Linked DNA regions of Homo sapiens: region 1 is linked to region 2. Evidence: fine-mapped expression QTL. Tissue or cell type: whole blood. Region 2 holds a variant in brackets; the other region holds the start of a gene. All regions are shown on one strand. Distances are from middle to middle.

Region 1 (8,109 bases), 450 kb after region 2:
TGGCAGACACTATTGTTACTCCAACTTTACAGTTAAAAACAATTAAAACCTAGACAGTATTACTCCCAAAGTCTCTGAGCTAGTTGCCGGCAGCTCTAGAACTCAAATCCAGGTCTCTCTGACCCCAGTCTATGCTGATAGCCACCAGACCATGTGTTCAAATCCACTTTCCAGTAATACATATTACTAGAATAATTTATTTCACTATCCATTTTTTAAGGACTATTAGGAACCTCATCTGCTTTCATTTGTTGGAGATTTGTTTCTTCAGTGCTCCAAAAAAGACTTAAACTATCCAATTTCTATGTAGCATCCAATGAGATACATAATTTGGCAGACATTACATCCATTGAAAACAATGACATCATTGTGGCTCTTTAAAAAAGTACAGCTACAGACTAAAGTAGCTCACTTCTTTTGGTTTGTAAATGACTAGACGTGAAATGTTATAGTATTCTTTCTGTATGTGTAATACCTTGAGACCTTTGGCCTTGTCTTGTTATAAATATACAGTATTCTTTACAAGAAAAAAATTGTTTAATTTAATTATATGAGCACTGTTCCTTTGGAGTGAGAGGAATGCTTGGGAAAGCAATGTAGCAGAATCACCGAACTGTTTTCAATGTACAACCTTTACTTGATTCTAATAAATCATCATACTATGCCAGAAAGTGTGAGTATGATTGTAAGTGTGTGTGTGTGTGTGTGTGTGTGTATGTATGTATGTATGTGTGTACTGGGGAGGGGTGCACACAGACAGGCACAGGTAGGTTGAAAACATTTCTCAGATGATCTCCACATTATCCCCCATCAAATTGTCTTCCAGAATCACCATTTCAGAAAGCCAGGTGTTTGCAAATTTTTTTAAAGTTGAAAGGAGGGAAGAATTCTTTTTTCAAAACCAAGTTGACTATATAGGATAGCTGCTGACAAAGAATAGTCTACCTGACTAAATGGTTATAATTACATATTATATAATATATTAGTACCGTAGGTCACTACTCCAAAACTTTCTCATTTTGTTCCACCACTCCCCTCACTCCCACACCACCACCAAACAAAATGTGTTTGCAGCACCATTTCATTCTATGACCTTCAGAGGAAAGCACTCAGGAAAATAGGGCACTGGCAATTAAATTAACTGCTTAGCAAAGAAGGCAGCTACTATGTGTGAATGGGATTGTTCTCTTGTTTCAAAAGAGAGAGAGATAAAAAAAAAAAAGCAGGATTTTTTTTCTTCTTTCTCTTTCTTTTTTTTTTTTTTTTTACAGTGAGCATCCTGTAAACAGCTCTATTACCAATAAATACGGTAATTGGTTTTGTCAGTAATGGGCCAGGTATGTTCACCAACTCTAAAACATCTTCGTTTGTGAAATGAATTTCTGAGTAGATATCAAAACATGCTGCCATCTTTATCACACTAGCCCAATACTAAGAAATACTCATAAGTAAAACATTTTCCCAGAATTTCAGTATTTTAAATTGGCACGTTTTTGTTACTCTTCTCGCTGCTAACTTGAAGATAAGGCTCACTAAGATATACTTTTTAATGGATATGCATCAGCTCTGCAAGACAAAATATTTTACAATCTTAAAAGTTCAATTGGTGCAAATCTCATCGTGACTGATCTTTATTGCGAGGGGACTTTGCACCTTTTGTGATTTTTCACAGGCATATCGCAGTTATTCAATGGCCTTCATAGAAGCCAAGGGTTTTACAGGGAAGAAACGGCCCCGGGACACTTCAAACTAATTAGCCTACTTCTCAGAATCTGAGACCTAATGAAAATGATCAGGGTGGCATCCTTGAGTCCTGAGACAAACTGTATTATTAAGAGGGTTCCTGCCACTGTTCCTGGCTCCTTCCATTAAGCTCGGAAAACAGCTACTGGCTAAAAGACACAAGTTATTTTCTAAACACTGACCTGCTTTGTCCTGAGAGTCATCAAACTCCACGTTGAAAGCATGACCATTGTTGAGGATCCTCAGGGAAGTTGCTTGATCATAGGAAACAGACAGGGGCTTCAGGGAAGGGTCATACTTGGCTGTATGAGTGTCGATGTCAACAGGGGACTGGCGCTCTCCCTTGGCAATGGGGAAGTCCTTATGCCAGTGCTCAGGTCCTGGGGGAAAGAAGACATGTGAATCCCCCATTGTGGGGAAAGGTACACCCAGACCCCTAGAGAAGAGCAATCATTCCGGAGCCAATCTGCTCAGTTCCAATTTTAGAAGCATCACTTAACAATGGGCTAAATTTTGGGAAAACACGTAATCTGTGCCTCAGTTTCCACATTTGTAATATGGGATAATTAGAAATCTACCTCATAGATGTCGCTGTAAGAATTAGAATCGATATATGTAAAGCTCTTAGATCACTGAGTGCTATATAAATATTAGCTATTTTAAGGTCGTTTTACTGAAATTCAGCAACTGAAATCGGGCAGACACTAATGTCAGGGCTTGTGGTTGCGATTTTGGGATATGCAAGCTCACTTAAGACATTCAAGGAGGTCTGGATCCTTTCCTCACTGCCCAGGCCCGGGCCCACCCCACCTTTAACCGTCAGGGTTCCCCACTACCTGGGAAGCCCCACACCCTCCAAAGATGCGCTAGGTGCGCCAGACGCATGCTCCTCTGCTCCGCTGGCTCCGAAGAACCAGATCTGAGGCCAAGATAAAACCCGATTCCTGATGTCCGACCCCCTAACATTAGAAGTCGAGAGATGAAGGGAAAACTCGGAAATCAGAGCCATGGATTCAAACCAGCACTGGAAAATGCCCCGGGACAGTTCGTGCTGAGCGCCTTAGCCACAGGTGGTGCTGAAGCTGGAGGGGTGGGGTGGGGGTGGAAGGTGGGGGAGGGGGGAGGGGAGTCTCTTAATTTCTCTGCGATCAACAACTAGAATTTTCCGTTACAACCCTTTCCCGCCTCCTCCTAGGTCCGGTTAAAATGATCCCCAGGTCGGGACCCGGGAGGGACTGTCCTCGGGTCCCGCGGCCAGGGCTGCGCCTCCCCTCCCTCGGGCCCTACGCGCCTCCGGCGGACGCGGGGATTCCTCCACAGTGGCCTCGCAGCTGGGGCAAGGGGGACATCCCCGGCGCCGCGGAGCCGCGAGCGGAGCGAGCGCCCGGGGCGCACCTGAGCCTCCAGCACTCCCCGCGGCCGCGGTAAACAGCATGTGCGGGCGCTGCGGGCCCCGGGCCGGCATCCGGGCTCGGGGATCGGGGATCGGGGATCGGGGATCGGGGCGCCCCCGCGCTGGCCGTCGCCGGCACTCACCGTTGTGTTTGCCGTACCCCCAGTGATGGGACATGGTCGCGCTGGCGGTCGGGGCAGGGCAGGAATCGGCACCGATCTGGCGGCGGCGGCTTGGGCGCCTGCACTGTGTGTCCGCGGGTCGCGCCGGCACCAGCTTTTATAGGCTCCCGCCAACTTCGTGCTCGGGGGCGGCCCGGGGGAGGGGGCTCGGGTGGACCTAGGCGACAAGGGGAGGTGGTGACGGGCGGAGGTGAACTCCCCGCGCTCGGGGCGGGGCGGGCCGGGCGGGCGAGTCTCCGGGGGCGGGGAAAACGCCCTCTCGGCTGGCGCCCGGCGGGGCTCCGGGGCTCCGGGGCTCCGGGGCTCCTCTCCCGCCGCCCGGCTCCCCTCGGCCCACGGCAGGGCCCCGGTGTCCTGGGCTGGCAGCGAAGCTCGGAGCTCTGGGCGTGCGGCGGCTGCGGTGGCTCCTGGGCTCCTCCGTCCAACCCGGGCCGCGGAGCCTCTACGCGCACCCCATCCCCCTCCCGGCTGCGGAGTCTGGCGGCGGCGGGGACTGCTCGGGACCCGGACCCCCGGCGCCTTTCGTCCCCTGTCCCCATTGTGACCTGTCTCTTGGCCCCGGAGCCCTCCCGCCCCACCCGCGCCGGGGTCTCCAGCGCGAAGGGCTCAGTCTCTGGTGTCCCCGGCCTGGGGCTGGCAAGCTGGGTTAGGAGCTATGACCTTGGGGCAAATAGGGATACGATCCTAGAGGCGCAGGGGAGCGCGCAGCATGAGTGCTGAGAGGCACGCGCCCTCTGCTGCACGGCCGTGGAATAAAACGAGACAACGGCCCCACAGTCCCCTGCCCGCAGCCCACGCTCGGGCGAGCCTGGAGGATTGCATTTCCTCGTAGGCTGGCAGAGCCTTACATGAAGCGCTCATCTTCTCCTACTTTCCTCCTCTTTAAAAAATTAACGTGGGTGAGGAGACGTCCTAGTTGAGTACATATTGATTTGAAATAACCAAAACTTTTAACAAATCACTTTTCTCAGAAGAATCCAGTAAGAGAAAGATAATTTCTTCCAAAGACATGAGACGTTCCCTGGCTGGCCAAGAAAAATTGGCATCTGGCATACCTAGGAATCATTCAAAATAGTTTAATAGGAAGGACATTTTGAGGCCAGCCAGCATTATGACATTTGTGGGTCCTACGGCATTTCACCTTGGTGGGTCCCTTTTTCATAAACACGCATTTATACCAACACTGACATAAAGATAAATATCTTAATATTATATATTTAAACATTTTCTTTAACCAACACCTAATTTTTTTCTTTTTTGTTCTTATTTTAAAAGGAAACATTTTCCTGGGCATCTAAAAGTATTGTGGACCTGAGACACTGTGCTTACAGGGCCTACTGGGTAAGTGAGGCTGTTTTGAGATATAGAGAGAATTCATTTCCTACAAGGGATTTTGCCACAGAAAAATCCGGGGGTTTGTGGGAAGGAGTTCGGTTCTGTGGTCTCTGCAATCTCTGAGGGCAATAGTATTAGAGTTACAGTTGGGGAAGCAGGACACAGTTTAATGTGATTGTGTCGGCCTTGACATCACATTACTTACCTTTGAAAATATACAGATAAATACAAGGATAAGTTATTAGTGGACATTTTTGCAATATGTATCTCAAAATCACTCTTTACTATTTATTTCAGTCAATTTCATCCAAACAAATATGATTCATGTTTAGACTTACTTGTTCTAAGATTCTAGAAAATTGTGTACTTCTGCTTATGTGGGTTTTGGGTTGATGTCACAGGGAATTCTTAGGCAAGAAAGCAGCAATAAAGTTTTTAAATTTTTAGGACCATTACAAAATGGAGTTTGTAGCAAAGAAGAAGCTTTTATTTGTGCCTCTGTAGGTGCATTGTATCTGTTGGGGCCCATTGATGTAATTTTGTTTCTTTACATAATTTTCAAATATTAACTTAGTTGCTATGAGACTCTTCACTTGGCCCTGGAGATATGGCGTTGATAGGTGCCAAGAATTGAGTGCAAAGTTTGTGAATGTAGAGTGGCTTCCCGGGATTCTGTGGAGGGAGCCAGGCGATTTGATCAGCAGGAATCCTTGTCTTTCATTTTCCGTGAAACTGGATTGTGGCTTTCCTAACAGGGATGAAGTAAGAGCATGTTTGATTCTTAAATATGCGTAAAACTTCAAACACCACCAAACTGCAGTTCACCAAATGGATTATTGTCATGGGAATTTTTCCTTATCTCTCACTTCTGGAAAGTGAATTAATTCTCAGTGGGAGCAAGCCCTCCCCACAGAGCTGCTGTTAGGGAGAGTGTCACATGTTCACCACAGGGTGGAGAGTGGTTCACCTTTGGTTACTCAGAAGCAATCTAAATTTTTTAGCAGCGTTTTTGGTATTACAGTGGTTGGCTTAGCATTGTTTTATTTTCCTGGTCAATTTTTTTTAATGGAGTTAACTTTATGCATTCATGTTGGTCAGTCCCAACCTAACTTTATTTTACTGAAGGCATTCTTCTTAGCAGGCTGTCATGATTCACTAGCTGCAAAAGACTACTCTAATACTGGATTTGTTCAAATAAAAAAAGTGCTTATCTTATTATGTACCTATCTTTCCATTAGAGGGAAGGATGGGTTCATTTCAGAATAATCTTAAGTAAAGGAACTGACAGTAGCTTAAGAAAAGTACTTTTCTTTGCCCCAGAAAAAAAAAAATTCAGGCAGTATATCAGGAAAATGTAATGTAAAAAAACTTAAAGTCTGTGTTCCAATTATTATAATAAAAAAGCTTCTAACATATTATTCTTAGTAAAAATGTGAAAGTATTTGCTTTTTCTCAAAAAATGTAAAGATATTGTTAAAATATTTTACAAGGTGAGATACACATTATTTATTAAATATTTAATTAAAAAGCTAATAAAAAGCCAGATATTCTCATATTTGTTACCATTATAGTGTTTAAGTAGATATCTGGGGCTGGACTCAGTGGCTCCCGCCTGTAATCCCAGCACTTTGGGAGGCCAAGGCAGGCGGATCGCTTGAGGTCAGGAGCTCAAGACCAGCCTGGGCAACATGGCAAAACCCCATCTTTACAAAAAATAAGAAGTTAGCCAGGCATGGTGGTGTGCCCCTGTAGTCCCAGCTGCTTAGGAGGCTAAGGTCGGCAGATCGGAACCCAGGAGGTTGAGGCTGCAGTGAGCCATGATCATGCGACTGCACTCCAGACTGGGAAACAGGAAGACACTGTCTCAAACAAAATAAAAATAAATAAATATCTATGAAGGCCAAGAGCCATTTGTTTCTTGGGGCTCCCATAGGTCTTTGCATACACATCCTTCTATCCTAATATTGGCAATTCTGCATTGTAATCAGACACTCTATTGTAATCATTGGGTTATAATCCAATGCCCCAATAAGCTGTTGACTGCTCATTTGTAAAGCAGGAATAATGACACTCACCTCATTGTTGTAAGAATTCAGTCAGTGAGCATAGATAAATCACCTGTCACGTGTAGGCACTCAGTAAATGATGGCTATTCAGTCCCTCCTAGACAGTGCTAAACAGTTAGAATATAATTTAAGGAATGCAAAATTAAACACCTGGGCCAGGTTCATGGGAAACATTTAAGAGGAATGAGTCTCCACAGCAGGAGGTGTTTTTTTGTTTGTTTTGTTTTGTTTTTTTTTGTGAGAGGACAGAGGAGTGTTTGGGTCATGGAGATGTCCATTCTACCACGCTTATGTTTTTCTTCCTAAACTGTGCCCCCTGAAGTTGAGTACTGTGTCACATTATTTATCTCTGTATCTTAGGCACCTAGTACCCTTTACCTAGCCTGAGTCCCAAGATACATATAGTAGTTACTCACATAGTACTCCTTGAAATTATAAACTTTGAAAAATCCAAATGGAGATAATGGCAGTTTCACTTTGCAGAAGTTAGTAAATAATTTTGTTACAGATTATAGTTAGCAAATAACATTGTGCTGAAATTAGGTTGGTTTTGAATCTGGGTTAATTTACTAGCTTTGTGACTTTGGGCAAATTTCTTGATTGTGCTAAGATTCAGTTTCCTCATCTATAAAACTAGGATAATAATAATACTTACCTCACAGAGTTGTGGTGAGGACTAAGATGATACAGTGTGTGAAGGATTTAACCTAGTGCCAATAATTAGAGCTTGATCAATGTCAGTTATCATTACTACCGTTACATGTTTCTCAGCTCCTATTTTGTGCTTAATATTTTCTATGTGCTAGGTGAGCTACACAAGATAACTTGTCTCATCATCCATTCACTCAATGAATCATTCTGAATGCTATTATGTGTCAGGCATCAGCACAGAGGCTATAGCCATAAACCAGATCAACATGACTCCTGCCCTCACAGAGTTTACATGGGGATGGATGGGGGTACTGTACAATAAATGACTCAAAATAAACAACAAAAGTAAATTTCCAATACTGAAAATTAGTATGAGGAAAGTAAAACAGGAATGAGGTAAAGAATAATGAGTGAGGAAATCCTACTTTAGATGCGGTGGTTATAGAAAACCTATTGAAGGAAGTACATTTGAGGAACCACTAAAAAAAGATCTGGGGGAGGGCATTTCAGGCAGAGGAAACAGCAAGTATAAAGGCCCTGAGAAAGGAAGTTTCTAGAACAGAAAAGCTTGTGACTGAAGCATGGTGACTGAGGAAGAAAAGACAAGTAGTGGAGTCAGAGACAGTCAGGGGCTACAGCCTGCAGAGCCTTGCAGACAATGATAGCAAGAAAGGATTTTATACTAGTTGCGCAGGGAAGCCACTAGGGAGTGGCTTATGCACAGGTATATTATGTGCTG
Region 2 (8,109 bases):
AAAGCAAGCAAAAATTCCTGCTGTCGTGGGGCTTATATTCTAGTTGGCTAACTGGGGACGACAATGAGCAACATAAGTAAATTGTAGATAAATTAGATAGTGATGAGGAGTATGTGCTGAGGATGAAACATAGCACAGGGAATGAAGGGTGGGAGAAGGAGTTGAAGTTATAGACAGGGTGGCCCAGAAAGGCCCCGTGAAGAAGGTGTCACTTGAATAAAGACCCAAGGAGGCCAGAGAGGGAGCCCTGTGGATATCTGGGGGAAGAGGCCTGGGTAGGAAGCATGCCTGGCATGTTGGAGGAATGGCTGGGAGATGGAATGGCTTGGAACAGGTGAATGAGGGGCAGAATAGCAGGAGATGAGATAACAGGGTGACAGAGAACCAGGCCACATAGAGCCTTGTCCATCTTAGAAAGACTCAGGCTTCCACTCTAAGATAGAAAGGCATTAGAGGGCTTTTTGTTTGTTTAGGTTTTCTTATTTATTTATTTTTGTAGATGAGAGAAAGATGAGACTTCCATCTGAACAGCATCACTTTGGCTGAGAGTGGTGATTAGAGGGAAGGAAAAAGATGGAAGTGGGAGACCATTTGGGAGGCTACTGCAGGAATCCAGATGAGCCATGATGGTGACTTGCTATAAGTCAGGGAGGGTGATAAGTGATTAGACTTGGGGTACATTTAAAAAGTATATCCGAAAGGACTTTCTGGTGGGTTAGATTGGAAAGGAGGAATGCCAAAATCTCTGAAGCTTTCGGACTGAGCAAAGGATGAGATGAAGTAGACTGATGGACAAGCAGGTCTGGGTGGGGTGGTGAGATCACCCTCAGTCACGCTGAGCTAGAGGTGCCCATTAGGCAAGTGGCTGTGTCAAGTAGGTGAGTGGATATGGAAGCCTGGACTTGCAGGGAGAGGTCTAGTTTGGAGATATTGGTCTGTAAGTTGGCAGCCTAGAGGTAGTATTTAAAGCAATAAAATTGAATGGAATCATCTAGGAATAAATTTGGATACAAAAGATAAAAATTCAAGGGGTACACCCTTGATCGCTTCTAAAACTGAAGATCTGGAGAACTGGAGAAACCAGGAAAGGTGAGTGAGAAGGAGTGATTTGTGAGGTAGTAGGAAAACTGAGACAAGGATGTAGCTAAGTGTAGAAATTCCTGGGGTAGGGGTATGGAAGAGGGAGGGGTGTGTGTGTGTGTGTGTGTGTGGTGGATATGTGGTATATATGTCATATAAACTGTATCAAATGCAATTTGTAGAAACTGAATTGACTGCTGCATTTAGCAACATAGAGGTCATTTGTGAACCTGAGAAGCACATATAAAACAAAAATAATGGAGCACAGATTAAGTGACTAATGTGTGGTAGAGACCCTGCATGTGAGAACAATGTAAAGGTCTTGTAAAACGTACAGATTCCTGAATCCTATTCCCCAGAGAATTGAACCTGTAACTCTAGAATGGTGCCTGGGAAGCTTTCTTTTTAAAATGTACCATTTCACTTAGATGACCAGCCAGATTTTGAATTCCCCACTGTAGGTGCTTCACAGTCAGGAGAAAATAGTAATCACGCTGAGCAGCAGAATGTTACCCGAAGCAGAATAGATACAGTTGAATAGGCCAGAGAAGCTAGGAAACCTTATCACTGCCTCATGAGCAATGCAGCCAATTGACCATAATAAATAAGGAAAAGGAGCTCAAATTTCTCCAAGGAGTTCAAATTAGGGAGAGAGGATTTTGGAAAAGGACGTTGAAGCTGAATGGTGCAAACTGCAAGTCTAGCTAAGTCTGTGTAGGTAACCAAGAGTCACCGAGGGCATCCGAACCTGAATGGGACATTATGAAGTTGATATTTTGTGAAAATTATATATGCTAGCATTTTTCTTTATTTATTTTTTATTTATTTTTTATTATACTTTAACTTCTAGGGTACATGTGCACAACATGCAGGTTTGTTACATATGTATACATGTGCCATGTTGTTGTGCTGCACCCATTAACTTGTCATTTACATTAGGTATATCTCTTAATGCTATCCCTCTCCCCTCCCCCTACCCCATTACAGGCCCCAGTGTGTGATGTTCCCCTTCCTGTGTCCAAGTGTTCTCATTGTTCAATTCCCACCTATGAGTGAGAACACGCAGTGTTTGGTTTTTGTCCTTGCGAGAGTTTGCTGAGAATGATGGTTTCCAGCTTCATCCATGTCCCTACAAAGAACATGAACTCATCCTTTTTTATGGCTGCATAGTATTCCATGGTGTATATATGCCACATTTTCTTAATCCAGTCTATCATTGATGGACATTTGGGTTGGTTCCAAGTCTTTGCTATTGTGAATAGTGCCGCAATAAACATATGTGTGCATGTGTCTTTATAGCAGCATGATTGATAATCCTTTGGGTATATACCCAGTAATGGAATGGCTGGGTCAAATGGTATTTCTAGTTCTAGATCCTTGAGGAATCGCCATACTGTTTTCCACCATGGTTGAACTAGTTTACAGTCCCACCAACAGTGTAAAAGTGTTCCTATTTCTCCACTTCCTCTCCAGCACCTGTTGTTTCCTGACTTTTTAATGATCACCATTCTAACTGGTGTGAGATGGTATCTCATTGTGGTTTTGATTTGCATTTCTCTGATGGCCAGTGATGATGAGCATTTTTTCATGTGTGTGTTGGCTGCATAAATGTCTTCTTTTGAGAAGTGTCTGTTCATATCCTGTGCCCACTTATTGATGGGGTTGTTTGTTTTTTTCTTGTACATTTGTTTGAGTTCTTAGTAGATTCTGGATATTAGCCCTTTGTCAGATAAGTAGATTGCAAAAATTTTCTCCCATTCTGTAGGTTGCCTGTTCACTCTGATGGGAGTTTCTTTTGCTGTGCAGAAGCTCTTTAGTTTAATTAGATCCCACTTGTCAATTTTGGCTTTTGTTGCCATTGCTTTTGGTGTTTTAGACATGAAGTCCTTGCCCATGCCTATGTCCTGAATGGTATTGCCTAGATTTTCTTCTAGGGTTTTTATGGTTTTAGGTCTAATATTTGAGTCTTTAATCCATCTCAAATTAATTTTTGTATAAGGTGTAAGGAAGGGATCCAGTTTCAGCTTGCTAAATATGGCTAGCCAGTTTTCCCAATATGGTAGCATTTTTAAAGAAGTTAATTTGAATAATAATCCATTGTAAAGGTTATTTTTCATCTCTAATGTTGATAGGTACTCTGTTTTTCGTTTCATTGTGGACCTCAGTTTTAGGATTTTTATTATGTTTCTGGCCACTGCCGCATCTTTGCAGTTTCTGTCATCACTCTCTTTTCTGCCATTTTTTACATTTATCTTGAATAGTGATTCTCAAGCAATAAGCTCTAATGTTCTGATGAGCCCACATATTTTTATCAATCTGTAATATTTATTTTTATGTCATTGGGTATAAAATATATTTGTCAGACAGAACCCTGAGTGGAGTGGATCTTGCATTGGAGTGTAACAGAGAGAAAGTAAGAGGTAAGAGGAGGGTGATGGTACAATCTATCATCCATGCAAGGACACTTTCAGGAGTGAAAAGGGGTGCCATCAACAATCACATCAGGACAACAGGAAGGAACTGGAATTGTTTAGGTAAATTGGGACATATGTGCACCTAGGAACTACAGGCTTTAAAGCTAAGTTTAAAGCTAAAAAGAATGCTCTGCTTATGGAACTTATGAGAACTTTGCCTTGTGAATATATTGAGCGTGCCCTAGGTGGCAAATAGCATTATTTAAACAGCTGCTAGTGTGCAATGAGACGATAGTGCAGGAAATGTGGATACTTTTAGATAAACTGCAAAATATTGTGG[T/C]ATTTTCATAGTGGTTGTGCCTTGTGATTATGTGGATCGTTTACATCTATTTTGAGGTTTATACTTTATATGTCTCAGCTGTATAATTATGGTAAAGGTTATAATCCCTTCTAATATGCTTCAGAAACTTCTACTATTTGGAAATCTGCAGTGAACACAAAAGGAATGAATACGACTAACGTGCTCCAAGTGATTACTTAGAGCAGTTCGCCTGAAGGTTTGTTAAGATAATAGTTAATAATATCAACTCCTGCTAAACATTTCCACTCATTTCTAGGAAACTCCTCCTAGTTTGCATTTCCTCCATCTTCAGACATCTTCTGGTATCTCCTAGCCTGAATAAGAAAAACTCAATGTGACCCTGACAACATTTCTATGTACCTTTTCTTTTCAACAATTACCACGTTGATTGTTGAATCTGACGACGTATTTTAAATTCATGCTGCTTGATGACTTCACATCACTTTTATACCATTGATCTCTCTCCTGAAAATTCTCTTTGAAACATTACTATTTGCTTCTGCTTAAACCTTCTAGAACTGCTTCACTGATGCTTTTTTCTCCTCAGTTACGAAAGCTCTTGGTATTGTGTGTGGGCAATTCTGTGTATATTCTTGATGTTCTTTTTTTCTAAATTATTTTTATTCTACCCTAGAGGTTTCAATATCACTTATGTTATGCAGATGACCCCATCATACTGTGACTTTTTTCTTCATCTCGCTCTCATTTATTGCATGTGCCTTTTTTAATTTTAATTTTAATTTTAAGTTCTGGAGTACCTGTGCAAGATGTGCAGGTTTGTTACATAGGTAAACATGTGCCATGGTGGTTTGCTGCACCTATCAACTTGTCATCTAGGTACTAAGCCCAGCAGGCATTAGCTATTTTTCTAATGCTCTCCCTCCTCCAATCAGGCCTCAGTGTGTGTTATTCCCCTCCATGTGTCCATGTGTTCTCATTGTTTTCCTCCCTCTTATAAGTGAGAACATGCAGTGTTTGGTTTTCTGTTCCTGCCTCAGTTTGCTGAGGATAATGGCTTCCAGCTCCATCCATGTCCCTGCAAAGGACATGATCTCGTTTTTTTAATGGCTGCATAGTATTCCATGGTGTATATGTAACACATTTTCTTTATCTAGTCTGTCGTTGATGGGCATTTGGGTTGATTCCATGTCTTTGCTATTGTGAATAGTGCTGCAACGAACATACATGTGCATGTATCTTTGTATGGATTTATATTTGAATGATTTATATTTGAATGATTTATATTCCTTTGGGGTATGTACCCAGTAATGGGATTGCTGGGTCAAATGATATTTCTGGTTCTAGATCTTTGAGGAATTGCCACACCATCTTGCACAATGGTTGAACTAATTTACGTTCCCACCAACAGTGTAAAAGCATTCCTATTTCTCTGCAACCCTGCTAGCATTGAATTTTTCATAATACCTCGACTTCAGCTTATCCCAAGAAAAACTCATCCTGTTTTTTGCATGACTAGTCCCCACATTCTACTTCCCTGCACAGTTCTCTACAAAGATTGACTGATGGATACTTTGTGACTGAATAGCACAGCCTTTCACACAGTCACACTGTTCTTCCAGTGCTTAACAGTGACAGTCACAGGACATTTTTCATCTTATAATTCTGCTTCAGAAATCCCAGGGGCACAAGTGAATTTATACCATCTTAACCCCAAGGAATGGGCAATGCAGATCTGGGGCAGCCTCCCTGCACAGGGGCAAAGGTTGACTCCATAAAAGCTTACAGTATAGAATTGCTGAACAGAACGCATAATTCACATGGGTAGCTTGTACCTAAGAGAAAGAGGAGAGGAGGGAATTAAACTTGACTTGTCCAGTTTTGCTTCTAAAAGTTACTGGCCAGATTAAATCATAGAGACTAGGAGAGTTGTAAAAAGGGCATTTCATTCACATTAAAAAAAAGAAAAATAAAGATCTCTCAATAGTCCCAGTTTTAATTTTTTTTTTAACTCATTGGGCAAATAGTTGGAAACAATGGTCAAATCTACCACTTAATCCAAAAATAACATGATAGTAATAAGGTGCCCCACATTTGATCATAAAACCCAACCTCAGGATCAGATTGTCAAGGAGAATGAAAGTCCAAATATAAAGTTTCTAAAATTCAAAATCCAAAGTAATTCAAATCCATAATCAATCTTACTGCCCTTGTGGGCTAATTTCACAGGAATTGAAGTCCAAAATTCATCAACCACCTCAACTTCCTGTTCTGCTCAGTCCCAGCCAGATGGTTCTCGATGACTGAGGAGTGCTATGATTTCTTCAGCAGCTGCAGCCAAGTCTGTCTCAAGCCAAATCTCTCATGCCTCACTTGACAGTCCCAAAAGACTATCTGAGAACTGGCCCCACTCACCCACCAAATTTAGAAAACAAGCCAGTCTCCAGGCTCCTGGGCCAACTATTTCAGACAAAGATATGTTTACAACTTAGTGGAAACCCACCATACCCAGTGTTGCCAAAGATCTTAGCAGATACTCATGGCATCAGAGTGATAGAGGATGGGTGGGAAAAAATTAGATTTTTGCAAGGAAAGAGAAAGCACAGAGGTAGGCCAGGTGTTATGCTAGTGCAGCTCCTTTCAAATGGAAGGAAGCATCAGGAGTAGGGAGGAAGTGTCCTTCTCACCAACAAAAATTAAAAGTTCAGCATATAATTTTGCTTAGAACAAATCTCTTTTGTGATTATTTTCTGTCTCTTGACATATATCCACATTTCAAGTAATGGAGTATTTTCATGACTAAATTATAATGTTGTATTCATAAAAAATTAGCCAGGCGTGGTGGCGCATGCCTGTAGTCCCAGCTACTCGGGAGGCTGAGGCAGGAGAATTGCTTGAACCTGGGAGGCAAAGGTTGCAGTGAACCGAGATCGCGCTACTGCACTCCAGCCTGGGCAACAGAGCGAGACTCCGTCTCAATAAATAAATAAATAAATAAAATAAAAATAAATGTTGTATTCACAGATGTCAGCTCTAGTTCATTTATCCAAACTCAATAAATGACATCTTTATTTCCTGATTCTGTTTCATTCAAGAAGCAATGAGAAACTCATATGATATCTGAACGCAAGGGTAATTGCCTATTGTTTCAAAACTATAGAAACATTCAAGTTGTATATAATATTAGTTACTTAATCATTAGCATGTCATCTCTCAAGCTAGTTCACTTCTTGAGGTCATTTTCTCAGTCAACAATAGTTTCTGAAGAAAAATTAATGCTTTGGTGCTTTTGAATTTAACGTTGATTCCTTCATCAAAAACAGATAATCATAAATGTTCTATAATAGGATTAGTAACCTTTTTCTGTGAAGGACCTGACAATATGATCCCTGTTGCAATTACTAAACCCTGCTTTTTAGCAAGAAAGAAGCCACAGATGATAGGTAAATGAATGAGTATGGCTATGTAACGATAAAACTATCTACAAATGTGAAATTTGGCCCTTGGCCATAGTTTGCTGACCCCTGTTCTACAGGGATTAGTTTAGGACTCAGTGAGATAATGTGCCTAACACAATGTCTGACACAAGGTAGCCATTCAATAGATGCAAGTCTCCCATCTTGCTTTTCATTAGAAGAATTCCTCCAGAGCCTTGTAAGTATTTTAGCCAATTACATATATTCTTTCCGGCTTGGGAGCTCCGAAAGCTTAAAAAGAACAATTATCATTAGTTCCAAGGTATTTTAATAATTATTAAAGTTTGTTGCTTAATTATTGTTGCAAGAGTTCAATAATGCTTGGACCCAGGTAAATTTAAAAAATATGTATACAAAGAAATTAATTGTTTTTAAGCAGATTCTGAATATGTGAGACTGCTATTTAATTAAGTTTCTACCTACGACATAAAAACTAGTGTAATATGTAGTAGTCTTCCCAGAATGAAACATTAAAAAATAATTATGAGGATAAGCTGGCCCTTTGAATCAATTTTTTAACTAAAATTAATTTTGTCTTCTTTGCTTCCCAAACCAATAATTTCCTCCCTTTTAAAATAACAATAGGAATCTACACAAAATTTGTTATAGAGAATTTGACCAAGCCCTTTACATATTGTGTATTAAACACATACATGTGTTTATGTCTGTGTGCGTATATATACTTTCTGCCCATGTGCAAAATATACAGCATTATCTTTCCCATTTTTAAGCCATTACAATGTGTTACTTTTCATGCGTAGGATTTCACAACCTAAACTAACTTTCCTCAACTGTGCCTGTATATTTGAATCATCTGGGA

What was found. PIP is the estimated chance that this variant, and not a neighbour inherited with it, causes the effect.
Region 1: CA2 starts here. The variant in region 2 is fine-mapped to the expression of CA2 in whole blood (TOPMed, PIP above 0.99). The same link has a PIP of 0.9 or more in blood mononuclear cells.

What each region holds. Positions count from the first base shown.
Region 1 is chr8:85,459,286-85,467,394 of GRCh38, reverse strand. It overlaps CA2 (carbonic anhydrase 2), which reads right to left and starts at 3,388. Exons shown (of 7, transcript NM_000067.3): 1 at 3,280-3,388; 2 at 1,926-2,123. The coding sequence starts at 3,313. CA3-AS1 (CA3 antisense RNA 1) reads left to right here and starts at 2,480. Exons shown (of 3, transcript NR_121630.1): 1 at 2,480-2,813; 2 at 4,594-4,659. RefSeq lists enhancers at 2,780-3,279, 5,180-5,875 and silencers at 2,923-3,392, 3,503-3,822, 3,893-4,152.
Region 2 is chr8:85,912,382-85,920,490 of GRCh38, reverse strand. No RefSeq gene overlaps it. Among named protein-coding and RNA genes, the nearest start is that of LINC02849, 61 kb to the right of the region's middle. The variant T/C (reference allele first, on the strand shown) is at 3,835.